Regions from separate parts of the Homo sapiens genome. Here region 2 is linked to region 1. A link means that fine-mapping ties the variant in region 1 to the expression of a gene that starts in the linked region. Tissue or cell type: whole blood. Region 1 holds a variant in brackets; the other region holds the start of a gene. All regions are shown on one strand. Distances are between the middles of the regions.

What was found. PIP is the estimated chance that this variant, and not a neighbour inherited with it, causes the effect.
Region 2: it holds the start of IRF6, and the variant in region 1 is fine-mapped to the expression of IRF6 in whole blood (INTERVAL, PIP above 0.99).

The regions. Positions count from the first base shown.
Region 1 is chr1:209,759,902-209,768,005 of GRCh38, reverse strand. TRAF3IP3 (TRAF3 interacting protein 3) reads right to left here. Exons shown (of 17, transcript NM_025228.4): 3 at 7,622-8,024; 4 at 5,344-5,491; 5 at 5,136-5,193; 6 at 4,914-4,938; 7 at 4,614-4,643; 8 at 4,419-4,514. The coding sequence starts at 7,966. Among named protein-coding and RNA genes, the nearest start is that of TRAF3IP3, 7.9 kb to the right of the region's middle. The variant C/T (reference allele first, on the strand shown) is at 3,542.
Region 2 is chr1:209,802,376-209,810,462 of GRCh38, reverse strand. It overlaps IRF6 (interferon regulatory factor 6), which reads left to right and starts at 4,321. Exons shown (of 9, transcript NM_006147.4): 1 at 4,321-4,516. RefSeq lists a silencer at 4,056-4,399.

The DNA.
Region 1 (8,104 bases):
GAAGCTAGGGGGTTGGTGGGGAGGAGGGACAAAGAAGAGAAGGGTGAGGATTGGGAGGGGTGAGAAGAAGGGAGGGAGGAAACCACAACCAAGGGAACTTCTGCTCTTGGGCTGGAGCATGGGGTGAAACTCCTCCTTGGAGACAAACCCAGAAATGTCTCTTAATATATCCCCCCTCATTCCCACAAAGCTTGCTTTGATTCAAGCTCTGGTTGTGTCTTACCTGGGATATTACAAGAGTCTCAACTCCCCCAACCCCTGCTTGGAGCCAGGGTTCTTATTGCTACAAGTTAGATAATCCTTGAACCCTCCCCCCTCTTTTTTTTTTTTCAAGACAGGGTCTTGCTCTGTTACCCCATGCAGGAGTACAGTGGTGCAGCCTGGACCTCCTGGGCTCAAGCGATCCTCCTGCCTCAGCCTCCCAAGTAGCTGTGACTATAGGTGTGTACCACCATGCATGGCTAATTTTTTTATTTTTAATAGAGATGAGGTCTCACTATGTTGCCCAGGCTGGTCTTGATCACTCAAGTGATCCTTCTGCCTTGGCCCCCCAAAGTGTTGGGATTACAGGTGTGAGACACTGCATCCAGTTGGAAATTACAGAACTTTTTAAGACACAGATCTGATCATTCACAAGTCATTTCCTCAGATAGTAATTGCATACCTTCTAAGGATGAGCCAGACATTGCTAAGTGTAGGACTTTATACCTCAATAAAGCATAGTTCCATTCTTACTCAGCTTATTACCTATAGCAGTGTTTCTCAAGCTGGGTAGCATGCATTCTAAAGGATCTCTGATTTTATATATATACATATATGGGTTTCCTTTAAAAATGGGTCCATGCATTATTCAAGTTTGAGATACCTTGTTCAACAGAAAAAGTTTAAGACCCATAATTCTAAAGACCTGTCTGAGATCCTTTCTTTGGTACTACTCTGGCATACCTTCATTTCAGCCATACTCTGCTATACCCAATTCTTTGCCATACATAGGCCTGTAATCATTCCAATTCCTTTACCTTAAACACTCTTCTACTTTCTGCTTTTTTCCCTCATCATCACTCTTGCTTCTCTACTGGTTAGCTCCTACTCATCCTTCAAGATTCAGCTAAAATGGTTTCTTTCCTTTATTTTTATTTTTTGAGACAGAATCTTGCTCCGTCACCCAGGCTGGAGTGCAGTGGCACAATCTCAGCTCACTGCAACCTCCACCTCCTGGGTTCAAGCAATTCTTGTGTCTCAGCCTCCTGAGTAGCTCGGACTTCAGGCATGCACGATTACGCTCAGCTAATTTTTGTATCTTTAGTAGAGACGGGTTTTCGCCATGTTGGCCAGGCTGGTCTTGAACTCCTGGCCTCAAGTGGTCCACCTGCCTTGGCCTCCCAAAGTGCTGGGATTATAGGCATGAGCTGCCGTGCCTGGCCAGGTTTCCTTCCTTTAAAGCCTTCCCTGTTCCACCTCAGGTGGAATAATTGCTGCCTTCTTTCTCTTTTTCCTGCATCATGCTTTATGCACTGCTGCTATAGCCTTATTATACTGTTTTGGTGTTATTTATTACATGTCTCTGTCTTCATGGCTGGACTGTGAGCTCCTCAAGAGTTAGGACTGTAATGCTCTTTGCCCCTGTAGCACAAGGCCCAGCACAGAGTTGGAACTTATCAAATGACTGTCAAACAAATGAGTGAGATGATCTCAATTTAGTTCAGGACCAGAAACCACCTCACGTGCACAGCTGTCTGCCCCAAGTTCCTGCTCTGTCAATGAAAATGACCTAACAATCAGGAGCTCTGACCACAGATTGAGAAATCCAGGTACAATGTCTGACGTGAGGAGCAGGGCTGAGCTTAGGAAATCTTTTTTACATCACTGCAACTTCTCAGTTTTGTTCCATACTCTCCCATCATCTTTCTTTCTCTGCTCAAGCCATCTTCAAGGTAGGGTGAGATGTCACACAGGCCGGTGAGGTTGTGTGCTCCATCTCTTTCCACCCGGTGCGGTATGCTTTGGTGGTGTCAAGCTGCTTGTAGCTCATATTAATACATGAATTTATAGTACATACTAATTTACAGGTTTCAACATGGGGATTCTGAGGAAACTTGGGAATCCCCAAGACCCTTTTAAGGGATCAGCAAAGTCTTACTTTTTCTAATGACATATTTGTGTGAAACTGAATTTTTCTTTATGTTTAAACCAATAGATTGAATACAGAAGCAAATTGAGAAGCTAGCTGTCTTTTTTTTCAGCCAGACATTAAAAATATTTGCAAAAGTGTAAAGCAATGATACTCCTGTCACTAATTTTGTTTTTGAAAATATGGTTCTTTTTCTTTTTCTTTTTTGAGACAGAGTTTCACTCCCATCGCCCAGGCTGGAATGCAGTGGTGCAGTCTTGGCTCACTGCAACCTCCACCCCTGGGACGTAAGAGATTCTCCTGCCTTAGCCTCCTGAGTTCCTAAGACTACAGGTGCATGCCAATGTACCTGGCTAATTTTTTGTATTTTTAGTAGAGACGAGGTTTTGCCATGTTGCCCAGGCTGGTCTTGAACTCCTGAGCTCAAGTGATCCACCTGCCTTGGCCTCCCAAAGTCTGGGATTACAGGTGTGAACCACCGCACCCAGACTGTTTTTCTTAAAACATGTAATTCAGGTTAGCATGAAAAATTTTACTCTCATTATTTTAAAATTAATAATTCTTTCTCAATTTCTATCTTAATTTCTTCCTTCCTTCCTTCCTTCCTTCCTTCCTTCCTTCCTTCCTTCCTTCCTTCCTTCCTTCCTCTCTCTCTCTCTCCCTCTCTCTCTCTCTCTCTCTCTCTCTCTCTCTCTCCTGTCTCTCAGAGTCCTGCTCTGTCATCTAGGCTGGAGTGTAGTGGCACTATCATCGCTCACTGCAACCTCCACTTCCTGGGCTCAAGCGATTCTCGTGGCCCAGCCTCCGGAGTAGCTGAGATTACAGGTGTGCACCACCACGCCTGGCTAATTTTTGTATTTTTAGTAGAGACAGGGTTTTGCCATGTTGGCCGGGCTGGTCTCTAATTCCTGACCTCAGGTGATCTTCCTGCATCAGCCTTCCAAAGTGCTGGGATTTACAGACATGATGCACGGCACCTGGCCAACTGTTTTAATTTCTAGTATGGTAAATATAAACATTTCTTATATATTTTCAATAATTTAAAAAGTATAAAGGAATCCTGAAATAAAAAAATTGGAGAACCATTTTACTAGACTGTGTCATGCCTTTAGATTTTTTTTTTTTTTTTTTGAGATGGAGTCTCGCTCTTTTGTCCAGGCTGGAGTGCAATGAGGTGATCTCAGCTTACTGCAACCTCTGCCTTCTTGGTTCAAGCGATTCTCCTGCCTCAGCCTCCTGAGTAGCTGGGATTACAGGCATGTGCAACCACACCCAGCTAATATTTTTGTATTTTTAGTAGAGACGGGGTTTCGCCATGTTGGCCAGGCTGGTCTTGAACTCCTGACCTCAGGTGATCCACCCGCCTCGGGCTCCCAAAGTGCTGGGATTACAGGTGTGAGCCACCACCCC[C/T]GGCCTTGCCTTTAGACCTTTGCCTGTACCCCAACTAAAATACTATTCCTTCTTCCATATTTTCCTGGCAAATGCTTATATAAGTATTCCCCTGGCTCTTTTCTTCTCTGGAGTCACTCATTCCTTCTTGTATTTTCCTATATCTTGAAAACATTTCTTTTATTTTTCATGTTTTTGTATTGTTTAGTCATGTGTCTTTCTTACAAAACCGTGAGCCTTCTCAAAGCAAGAACCCTATCTAAATAATCTCATTATTTCTAGTGCTAGTCCAGTGCTCTGTATAGAGGACATAACCTATGAATATTGTACATTGAATGGACTAAAATCAAAGGCCTGAATTTTAGTTGCAGATCTGCCACTACCTAGCTGTGTGACTTTTCGCAAGTTACTTGACCCCTATGAAGCTCAGTTTCCTCATGGGCAAAATGAGAGTATTAGGCCAGATTGTCTCTAAGGTCCCTTCCCACTCTGATATTTTTATTCGGACTGAGTGGGTACATGGCATGCTGGTTTCGATAAATATCAGTGGGAATCCCATATGAAAATATTTGACATTTAGCATATTTAGTAATGTAAACTATATTGGGATCTTCCTTCATTCCTTCCAACAAATTAAAAAATGGGAATTCTTGCCACTTTTGTTTCTGGGTCTTCCTTGGATATGTAGCACCATGACCCTCAGGTGATGACCCATATATTTATTGTGACCTGTTTGACTTCTAGGTCTGAGCACCATCCCCCTCATCTCCTGCCTCTTCCCAGCTTACTTTTCAGTAGTGAGAAAACCCCTTCTCTTACTGTGATGATGTGGAAAGAAAAATGAGATGGGAACACATAGAAGCCCAAGCTTTGTTCAAAAAGAATTTCATTCCCTTACCTTCCAAGAGCTGTCAGAGGCCTGAATCAGAGTGGACAGTAGGTCTTGGAGAATCACCATTTTCTGTTTTAGGACCAGCTCCCTTTGTAGGGCCTCCTGGGGGTGCGGGCACAAAGTGCAAGAGGGTAAGATTAACCTGGAGGATCGGGGGTAAGTGGATGGAGGAACTGAGGGGAGGGGTCACATGCCACTTACTTTGAGGTAATCAGAAAGCTGGATGATTTCCTGGAGAGAAAGAACAAGGGTATTCAAAATGTCTGTAAGTCCCCTGAAACCCTGGGATATAGAACCAGAGCCTGGGCTGGCTTGTGTAGAGCAAACCTCTTCTGCTTTGGCTCTGACAGGGTCCCTTTAGTCCCCATGTCTATGCTCAGTACCCCCTTGCCATCCAGGAAGAAGATGCCCCTCCATCCCAGCCAAGTTTATCATGGAATTCCAGAATGTCAGAGCTTAATACTTTCTGATTTGACCCCTTCAAAGTGAATATGTGCTTACCTTATCCAGAACTGCAACTCCGTAACTGGAAAGAGAAGAAATTAAAAATAATGATAATGGACCAAAGAATCAAGTCAGGAGGCAGTGGGTTGATTCCTTCTGAAGAGCCAGTAGGGTGGGGAAGGGCTTCCTCTTTCTTAATTAAGGCGGACATGGAAATTCATTGTGTTCTCTCTAGAGAGGAATGGATGGGATGTGAGAGGGTTAGGGTCAGGAACTCACTTGGTTTGCTGACTGGCATCGTTCTTAATTGTTGGTCCTTCTGCCTTTGTCTGAGTACCTGAGAGATGGAGGATAAGTTGATTTAGAACTTACAGGGAGGAAGTGAGGGAAGTGGGGAGGGACAGGGACTCTCCATTGCCAGTGAGCTGGGACAGTTGTCTCAGGATTCTCTGCAGGCCCTGTGGAGTGAGGGAGGCTCTGCTCTTACCACGGTGGTGTTTGGGTGGCTTCTTGATGGGAGTGTCCTGTGGAGGAAGGCCCCCAGCCTGTGAGGAGAGGTGGTCAGACAGATCCCTGCAGATGCCTGAGGGAGGAGGATGCTGGGCTGGAAAGACTTCAGAGCTGGTGCCTGTCACCTGGAAGGCAAGTGGGGAATGCTGAAAACCACTGCCTGGAGCCTCTTGAAAGACTCTCCTGATGATTTCGGAAGGAAGAACTAACCATCATGTTTGTTATGGACTGAGTGTTTATTGTCCCCCCGCCCAAATCTGTGTGTTGAAATCCTATCTCCCAATGTGATAGTATTAGGAGGTGGAGACTTTGAGAAATAATTAGGTCAGAGCAGGTAGCCCTCATGAATGGGATTAGTGCCATTATTAGAAGAGACACGAGAGAGCTTGCTTTCTCTCTCTGCTCTCTGCCTTGTGAGGACACAATGAGAAGAAGGCCATCTGCATAGTGGGAAGAGTGCTCTCATCAGACACCAGATCTGCAGAATCCATGGGTTTAGAACTCCAGACTCCAGAATTGTAAGAAATAAATTTCTGTTATTTAAGCCACCCAGTCTGTGGTAATTCATTACAGGACGAAGACAATGTTTCAGATCCACAAAACCAAAGTAGCCCACTCAAGCTTTCAGAGCCACACAGGCTTCTCCTGCTCCTGATATCCTTGTCCTGACTGGCAGAAATGGTCCTCCTCAGGCCAGGCATATGTGGAGCTGTACTTTTCTCCAGGTTTTCTCTCTAGAATCTCTAGTTGTTGTTTTTTTTTCTCTCTCTACCTTGTTTGGTTATGGCCACTTACATAGCCAGCATGGTGATGTGGAAAGAGAACTGGTCTGAGTGGGGAGTGAGGGGATCTGGGTTCAGATCCCATCTTTTCTAGGTCTCAGTCTTCTGTCTGTGTAGTGAGGAGTTTGGAATAGATAATCCATAAGGTTCCTTCCATATTCAAAGGAAAGCCTCCTTTCTCTTAGTAACAGCTAGAAAATCATTGAGGTTTTGTGTGAAGACTAGGTAAAGTGGGGAGTTGTGGGAAGGTTTTTTGCTTTAGTATACAGTTCCTTTTCTTTTGCAACTGGGCTCTAGGATCATTTCTCTGAACAGCATCTCCTATTGAGCATAACAGATCCACTAGTTAAGAAGCCCTGATAGAGTACCCACTCTGGGTAGGGAACAATGCCAAGCATTACCATGGAACATAGTGGACACATCCCTGCTGTCAACATGCTCACAACTTCAGTAGGAAGATGGTTTGCTGGCCAAGGTCATCTCAGCATACCCTGGTTTTTGCCAACATTGTTCCTTTCCAGGCCAGACTAATGGGCCCTCTAAGGGTTACACAATCTTAGAAGATTTTAACCTCACAAGGCCCATAGACAGCAGAGGTGGCCTGGAGAAGCCAGGGAAAGCTTCCTGGACCAGATGAGGCTATAGTCAAGTGATTTAATAGAATTGGAATGACACAAGAGGAAGTGAGAAGAGTGGGCACAACAGCCTTGCAGAAGAAAAGAGGACAGATATGTCTGTGTGTGTGTCAAGAAGACTGGCCTGTGTGCTTGGCATATAATAAGCTTTCAGTAAATATTTGATGACTGATGGATGAATGAATGCTGTAAGATAGCTGTAGAAGACATGTGTATATTGCCTAAATTTGAACTGATATAGGCATTAGCTTTGGAATTATTTTTATTTATTTTATTTTTAAGTTTTTTAGAGATAGGGTCTCCCTCTCTTGCCCAGGCTGGAGTGCAATGGTGTGATCATAGCTTATTGCAGCTTCAAACTCCTGGGTTCAAGTAATCCTCCCATCTTTGCCTCCTGATTAGTTAGGACTACAGGTGTGCACCACCATGCCTGGTTAGTTTGTAAAGTTTTTGATAGAGACAGGGTCTTGTCTCTATCAAAAGGCTGGTCTCGAACTCCTGGCCTCAAGTGATCCTCCTGCCTTGGCCTCCCAAAGTACTGGGATTACAGGTATAAGCCAACATGCCCAGCCTGAAATTGTTTTTAAAAATTATTTTTTCTCTCTTATAAGTCAAGTGCAGAACAAAAAGAGCTAAACAAACGAAAACACAACAGCAAAAATCTCTGAATAAGTAGCTGTTGGCAACTTTACTATAAGTAGCTCTTGGCAACTTTACTATATGACTGAGGAAGAAGGACTTGATTTAGGTCACTTTTTAGTGACCTTGAGCCCACCCACCCTCCTTGTCCAGAGAGGGTCCCAGAGCACACAGCAGTATGTCCCTTGACACGGCCCACCTGCTCTCTGGGAGAAGAAATCCTTCTGGCACAAGACAAGGGTTCCTTGAGGACAGTCACCTGTCCTGGCCGCCTGGAGGGCCCTTGCTCCCTGGCCTGGGGATGCTGCGCTTTGCCCTTCTCCTCTAGCTCCAGGTTCCTCCTCCTGAAGAACTGCTGCAGTCGAGCTCTCTGGAGCTGCTCTCTCTGTTGGATCCTCAGCGTCTTCCCCACCTGGCGGCAAGTGGTCACATTGGGACGGCAGCGGCGGCTTTCACGGATCTCTTGCCTGCGCTCACACTTGGCCTCATAGCTCTCAGCCCACCGGGCCAAGCCAGGGGAGGGCCTGGGGTCTGGGCTGATCATGATGACCTCCAAGCACCTGTTGCGCTTGGCTTCCAGTTCCTGGAATAGATGCCTGGATCTGCCAAATGCCAAGAGGGAGGAGAAGGGGAGGGGTCAGAAGATGGGCAGAAAAATGACTATCTCCCTAGACCAGGGGGC
Region 2 (8,087 bases), 42 kb before region 1:
GATGTTCTGAACACTTTGGTGGAGAATTCTTCTAGAGTCCAAAGCCAAAGTCTGTGCCATTGCTTGGATTGGAAAGTGAGATTCTTTTATGCTTCCTGCCATCTTGGTGATTCTAGAATTTGGAGGCCATTATAGAGTGCAACAACCAGAGTGCATTCAGTTTAGGCTGTGGCTTAGGCAATGTGTTAGGATCACCTGTGGCCCTGATGCTTTAAGATACTTGGATGGAGACAGAGATAAGCCAGGGCCAAGAGAAAAGTGAGGGTAGACCTGATGGGCTCCAGAATGCCTTCCAGAAGGAAGGTTGGAGTCTGATTTCCTTTGAAAGCACAGAATTGGATTGTTTAGTGCAATGTCCCTACCTGACTCTTTAGCAACTCCACCAAAGGTGCACAGCTTCTTTGCTATCACCAACTCCAGTAACACTAAACTCTCCACTGTATGGAGCCTTTGGGAGGAGTCCCAGTTGCCACGCTTTCTGCTCTGCCAAGAAGAGAGTGGGATTTGGGTTCATGGTTTTATTGTCACATGTCTGATATTGTAGAGTTTAAAGTCTCTGGGTGGAAAAAGAAACTCTTTCCTACCAAATGAGAGCTGACTGGGAACAGGAGAGGGGAATTCCCTCATTCCCTGTGGCTGTGAATCAGGGCCCCCGTGCTGAAATGTACGTCCCACTACCTGAAACTCAGACTCACTAGTGAGTCAGCAATGCCGCACCTGATTATCAATGGAGGGCAAAATGATGGGAGCATTGCAGGCCCAGGGCATGTTGGGAATGACTGAATCCTGAAGAGGCTCTTTTGAGAATACAGAAGAACTGATTCCTCAAGAGCTTGTGGAAAGACTCACAAGATGTTCTTATTCCCCAGATCAAGCAGATGAGGCGTGTATCAGAATAGAAGACATCAGGGTGGCCTATTGTCAGGGCTTGTTGCCTGCAGAGCCGGGGAGTTCCTCCTGATCTCTACCTTAATTCCACCTGCTTTACCCCCTTTCATTAATTCTTCAGTTGAGTGACATGAGAGTAGGGACTTGGTTTTGTTTATGGCAATATCAACAATATCAACAGTACCTAGATCCATGGGTGATTTTTTTTTTTTTTTTTTTTGAGATGGAGTTTCCCTCTTGTTGCTCAGGCTGGAGTGCAATTGTGCAATCTCGGCTCACCGCAACCTCCACTTCCTGGGTTCAGGCAATTCTCCTGCCTCAGCCTCCCGAGTAGCTGGGATTACAGGCATGCGCCACCAAGCCTGGCTAATTTTGTATTTTTAGTAGAGTTGACCATATTGGTCGGTCCGGTCTCCAGCTCCTGACCTCAGGTGATCTGCCCGCCTCAGCCTCTCAAAGTGCTGGGATTACAGGTGTGAGCGATTGCACCTGGCGATTTTTTTTTTTAAATCGTTAACAGCCAGTGCAGAACAGGTCAGAATAGACTTTGGCTGCGGAGCTGAGCAGGGGTCCAAGTGGATAGAGCCCCGGGTTTGTGTTCTAGTCTTGGTTTGTGGCTAATATGCCATGTGACCTTGAGTAAATCACTTGACCTCGCTGGGCCGCAGTTTTCTCATCTATGAAAAGGGAGAATTTAGACTAGAAGTTGCAATCAGATGCCTACAGGGTCAGGCAATTAAAGTAAATTAGTGAGCTCAATAGAGTGAGTTTGTATTGGCTGTAACGTGTAGACTCCCTCTAAATGGGCAACTGTTGCCAGGTAGAACTGCTGGTAGAGCATCCAGGGCACTTGACTCTTTAAGAGATGCTGAGAATTTTGATGTTTATGTGATACCTCCTGATATTTAAAATACTGTGTGGGTAAAAACTGGCTAAGTCAGTTTTAGTCTTGATCTAGATAGTCCAGAAGAACCCTCCCAGCTTGAGTTTTCTGATTCCAAAATATATGTCTTCTAAAGAAGGTCCTTAAGACATCCCCTTAGTCATGGGAATTTCAGCTGGTGCAAAAGTGAGTGCCTGTGTGTGGGCTCATACTTGTATGCCACTGGGGTTTTGACTCCCCTCAAATGACACTCTCCCAATGGCCTTACCCCTCATCCCTCTCATACACCTGCAGTGGAGCTTGTTTGGTCCCCAGAGCCCAGCCCTGGGCCAGATGGAAGATGCTGTTTGTCTAGTGAGCTCATCAGCAGTAAACAGCTAGCTGTGCTGATGAGCTTGCCCTTCCCCCAGTGAAGGGAAGAGTGGCCACAGGGCAGTGGTTGAGACAGAGGCTGGCTGAGTCAGGCCTTGGGGCCTTGCTGCCTTCCCAGGCCTTTGCTGGCTACATTCCAAAGCTAAATTGGGACTTGGAATCATGCCTACATTATTATCAATCTGGGGCTCTTCAACACACTTGTATGAGTATGCTAGGGCTACCATAACAATGTACCTCAGAGTGGGTGGCTTGAACAACAGAAATTTTTTGTTTCATAGTTCTGGAGTTTAAAAGTCTAAAATCAAGGGTCTGAGGGATGTGAAAAAAAAAAAAAAAAAAAGAGCTCTATTCCAGGTATCTCTCCTTGGGTTGCAGCTAGCTGTCTTCTCTTTATGTCTCTTCATATCACCTTCCCTCTGTGGGTATCTGCCTCTGTGTCCAAATCTCCTCCTTTTATAAGGACACCATTCATATTGGATTCAGGCTCACCCTAATAACCACGTTTTAACTTGATTACCTCCATAAGGATCCTGTCTCCCAATAAGGTCATATTCTGACATCTGGCTGTGGTTGCAGTGGGGGTGGTCAGGACTTCAAAATACAAATACAAATTTTTTTGTATGTGGGTGACAGTTCAACTCATTGTACCACTCCTCCACAGTTTCTCACTCATTACTTTAAACACCAAAACCTAAGTGACCTGCGCATGCCCCATTTCACCTACGACAGCTCAGTGGTTGAGGGTGGGGGATTTTTAAAAGTCTCATTTACTGTTGCACAGCCTCCTGCAAACCGGTCCTCTAGATAGATGAGGAAGGTGAGGGCAATCTCATCAAGCACCTGTTAGGGTACATGCAGGACTTGAATTTCAGGTAATAACAAGGAATGCCTTCTTGTTCTCTGACGCACTGTCTATATGGTATTTTTAATCTTTATGCCAATAATAATTGCAAGTACATATAAAGCACTTGATAAGTGCTAAATATTGTTGCAAGCAGTTTACATGTAGTTATTGAATTCCCACAATACCCCTGAGGTAGGTACTATTACTAACCTCTTTCTACAGATAAGACACCAGGGCCTAAAAAGCTTAAGAAACTTTCCCAAGTCTGTAGTAACTGATGGAGTTGGGGTCTAAACCCCAATAGTTGGCTCCAGAGGCTATGCTTTTACTCATTACACGATAGTGATCAGAGGAAGCAGGAACTCCAGTCTGGGCAACATAGTCAGACCCTGTCTCTAAAAAAAAAAAAAAAAAATTAGCCGGGCATGGTGACCCATGCCTATATTTCCAGTTACTTGGGAGGGTGAGGTGGGATAATTGCTTGAGCCCAGGAGGTTGAGCTATGATTGTGCCACTGCATTCTAGCCTGGATGACAGAGCCAGACCCTGCCTAAAAAAAAAAAAAAAAAAAAAAAAAGGAATTGAACTGGGTGCCAGTGCCTGTAATCCCAGCACTTTGCGAGGCTGAGGCGGATCCCTTGAGCCCAGGTGTTGCAGACCAGACTGTGTAACTTAATAGCAAGACCCCATCTCCAAAAAAAAAAAAAAAAAAAAAGGAAGAAAAAAGAAAGAGAAAAAAGCAAACAACAACAAAAAAGAAGGAAGGAATTATTATTCTCATTGAAGAGATGAGGAAACTGAAACCAAGAAGCCAAGAAGCTAAGTAACTTACCCAGGGTCACACGGGTAAGAGGCAGAGTAAAGGTAGAATTCTAGTCCTGAAAGCCTATGGCTTCTCCCAGACAGGACCAAGTGTCCTGGTTCTCTTCTTCATGTGCAACTCCACTTACACAGGCCCACGAGTAGTAGGGCCAACCCAGAATCTCAAAACCCTTATTTGTGCTTAACTGTCTGCATACTGCAGGGTAATTATGGGCCGTGAAGGAGGGAGGCACCCTCTCGACTTAGATCTGAACTCCCAGTCGCTTCCAGTTCCCAGGACCACCAGCCCTGAGCCGTAAGGCTAGGCCTGAATCTGGGACTTTCTTAGCCGGAGTTAGAAGCGGAGGAGTAGGGTGGGACGCTGGACGGACGCCGCTGGGCCGGGCAGCCCAGAAACGCGGAGTGTCATATTTCTTGCAACTCGCCAATCCCGAACGCCGGGGGGCGTGGCCACACCTGGGAGGCGTGGCCGGGCGGATGCGAAGGCTGCGGCGTCCTGGGGCGAGGCGCTGACGTGAGCTCGGCGCACCTGGGCTGGGCAGGTAAGGGCTGGTGCGGGACGGGGAGAGGAACCTGCAGTCCCTACTTGGGTAGAGCCAGGCGCCCCTTGGCTAAGACGTCGAGGAGCGTGGTAGCGACGGGTGATCTTCGCTGCGGACTTGGTTCGGAGGGACGTCCGCTTCTGGTGGACAGATTGAGCAAAGGTGGGTACGCCAACTTCTGGGGACCAGCTTGAGGGAGGAGAGGCTCCCCCGTGGGTGGGGTAGGACCCATCCCCGGAGTTTGTAGGGGGTGAGAGAACTTGCTTGGGGGCATCTGTGTGTTTGGGGTGGGTACCCACTGGGGCTGGGTGCCTGTCGCCCTTTTCCAGATAGCTTTGGGGCGGCCTCAGTTCTGTAGCGCTAGGCCCCTCTCGAATCTACACTTGTGTCTACTCTCCCTACCCCCACCGCCGAAGCGGAGGGCACTGCTCTCGGCCGTCAACAACCCCACTATCCGGTAGAGCTAAAGCACCGCGCCCCCTTCAGTCTTACCAACTTGCGGCTGGCCCCTGTGTCCCAGAGAGGGGACTTCCCAGGTCCGCAGGTCCTTGATCCTAGTGGGCGTTTTGGGAAACTGGAGTGAGGGTGGCCAGGAGCTTTGGAGCATTGGCGGTTTGTCTTCCCTCCCTGAGTCTGTTTGGCACAGTTAGGCCCTTCGCCCTGGGCCTGGGAGACAACCTTGGATTTCCAAGGAGCGGAGCTAGGTGCTGGGGAGGGTGGCGCTGGGGTGTGGTTGCTCTGGGGGTGGGCCCTCTTTGCCCGAAGGGGCTGGAGGGTGGTGTGGAGAATGGGGAAAGTCTCCCAGGCCTGACTTGGAAAGGAGGCCTGAGGTGTCACTCTTTACAGGGAGCCTGCTTTGTGGTAAAGGGGTCATCCTGTTCCAACCTGTTCTCTTGGTGGATGTCAAGAGTGGAAGTCAGGGAAAAGAGATGGATAGAGAGAGGAAGGCGCTTGGGTGGGATTGGTGAAAGCTGGTGTTGACCCAGGAGTGTGGTTTAGGATGAGACGTGTGTATGATGTATGACAGTGGCACTCAATACCTTGTAACTCCCATTCGCCATCCCCCAGCTTCCATCCAGCAGAAGGGAAGGGTGTGGGCATTTTGACTAGAGGCCTGCAGTTTACCCCTAAGCAGGGCTAAACAGGGAAGCCTGAGGAACGGAACTTAGACGATGGCATTTCATTTCTTTCAGGAGAAAGGGAAGAGCTGGGACTGCTAAGAATTGTCTGCGAGAAATGGCGTGTGTTTTAACCTGAGCAAAACCACTGACGGCCAAATCTCGGCTTTTGTGTGGCAGTGCCCCTGGAAACTAGTCTGGGGAGGAGCTATGGAGGTGGCAATGAGGGTGTTTATGGAGGACCTGCTCCCTAGAATAGGGGTATGGGAGAGGACAGTTATGCTCGGAGGAGGCTGAAAGTGTCCCTCCTCTATGCTCACTGTGAGGGGAATAGATAGGTTAGCATCATTGTCCTTTGGCTGTTTAAGTACCTGTTAGAGACACAGGCCTTACATTTTGCTGTGATGGCAGCTAGAGATACCAAGATGAGTTCAACTAGGCTAAGGTGGTTCTTCAGGCGTTGGGATTTGGGTGGCAAGAGTGTTTAGAAAGAGAACTCTGATTTAGGTGTGTTTGAGAGTGGATGTTATGCAGTCTCCACCTCAATCACTTTATTGGCCCTCTATGCTGCTGGGATCTTTGTTGATGTTTTTAGTTTACTTTCTTGGTGCGCAGAAGATGAGAGGGACATGGAAGACAAGGTGCAGTGGCAGGGTTTGGTACAGAACACTGTGACTTAGGAAATAAAGCACCTCAGCCCAGATGTAAAATGGGGATAGTAATATCACATTCAGGTTTATGAGGATGAAATCAGACATGTTAGGTAAAGGTTCATGTAAAAATTGTAAAGCCTACACAGATACAAAGGATTGTTGTTACCATCCTTCATAAGAAATGTCTTATTGTCCTGAGGTTAAGAAAAAATTACTTGTAGTTTTTTAAATTATAAATTGAAACATATCATTGTAGGAAAATATGAATCATATATAATGTATATGGGAGAATGTAAAAAGCACCCATAGTTGCATCACTAGATAACCATTACAAATATTTTGTTGCATTGTTGTATTTATTTCCTTTTTTCAGTTCTGTGTGTATGTGCACATGTATGCAAGTATATGCTGTGTTACAAGATGGAGATAGTGCTACACAGTCAAGTTGTATGCTGTTTCCCCCTGCCCCCACAACTTCATATTGTAAACATTTCCTTGAGTATAATACAAATTCTGACACCTGTTGTTAATGGCTACTTAATATTGCAGCCTGTGGTTGTGACGTAATGAATGTTTCTGTCTTGGCCATTTGGGTTTTCAATTGTTCCATCTCTGCCTGTTTTTAGACTTGTAGTTACTGGGTGGTGAGTGGGGGAGATCTTGGCTGACTTTCAGAAGGTGGAGAGGGTTTACAGTGAGAGAGGCAGGGCATGGGCTTGGAGGAGGGCAGGCTGGGGCTCCTTCCATGGGGCTGAGGCAAGGCTGCTCTTGTGTAGTCCCATCTTAGGAGAACACTGAGAACCCAGGGCTCTAGATCTTAATCACTGATTTCTGTGGGTGGCTGCTTCTCCTTTCCCATCATCAGGTGCAGCTCCTGGTCTTGGCCTGATTGCCTTAATTTTTGCATGGTGGGATTTGGATCAACTACAATAAGTCCTTTTGGACTTTTCTTCCAGTCCACTATCAGTCAAGAGTTGGATTTTAATGTCTGACAGGCCCAAACACAGCACTTACCAGTATTGCAATGGAAATTCTCAAAAGCTCTTTACTAGATTGACTGGTTTGGTGCCTATTTCCCTATCCTCTTTTTCCTTCTCTTGCTCCATCCCCCTTTCAGTAGTGATAGGACTGGGGAGCAGAAGGTAGAACTAGCCGTTGAGAGAATATGCATCCCCTCCTCCTTATAAGGCTTATAATGCACTCCATGGTTTGATGGTTTCACATGCTGCCCTACAAAACACCGTAATTCAAGGCCAACTACATGGGGGTACTTGAACACTGCGTGCCAACCTGACCTACCCACTATGCTCCCAGGGGGAAGGTTTCAGTTGCAGGACTTGGTAATTGGGTCAGAAAGCTCAGGTGAGAGCAGGTCTTGCCTTGCTCTTAAAGTGCCAGACGCTGAGTTGGGTTTGGGTTTTTCACATTTGTTGGGAGTCTGGCTGGGGAGAGAAGTGGTGTTATGGGCCACCCCGTCAGCTAAGCTCTTCTGAGTAGGAGCCTTCAGCTGACCCTTTTAACCTCTTTTCTTTCCCACCTGGCACAGTTTATTCCCATATTTAGCTGCTTTGCTGTAAGGTTGTTTGGTTTCAGAACTGTGGTCCAGGTAGGGATCTTTCTGGGTATGAAGGTGACCTATTTATCTTCCCCTCCTTCTCAGGCCATTGTGGGGCTTGAGAAGTTCCAGTGTGGAGTTTCTCAAGAAGGAACATGGAGCGTCAGTGTTTAGTAACTAACACCGTGCTTGGCACACAGTAGCTGATGAACAAATATTTGTTGAATGAGTGTTCTTTTTCCAGGCATCTCATTCTCATCTTAAGTAAAAACAAAATAAGAACACCAAAAAATCCAAACACAACATCTCAGACAAACAATTCTCCAGTGACTGTTTTTTTATCAGTCACCCAATCTGGGAAGGCTTTTGTTTTCTGCTGTGAGTGCCAGCTGCTCTTGAATGTTATC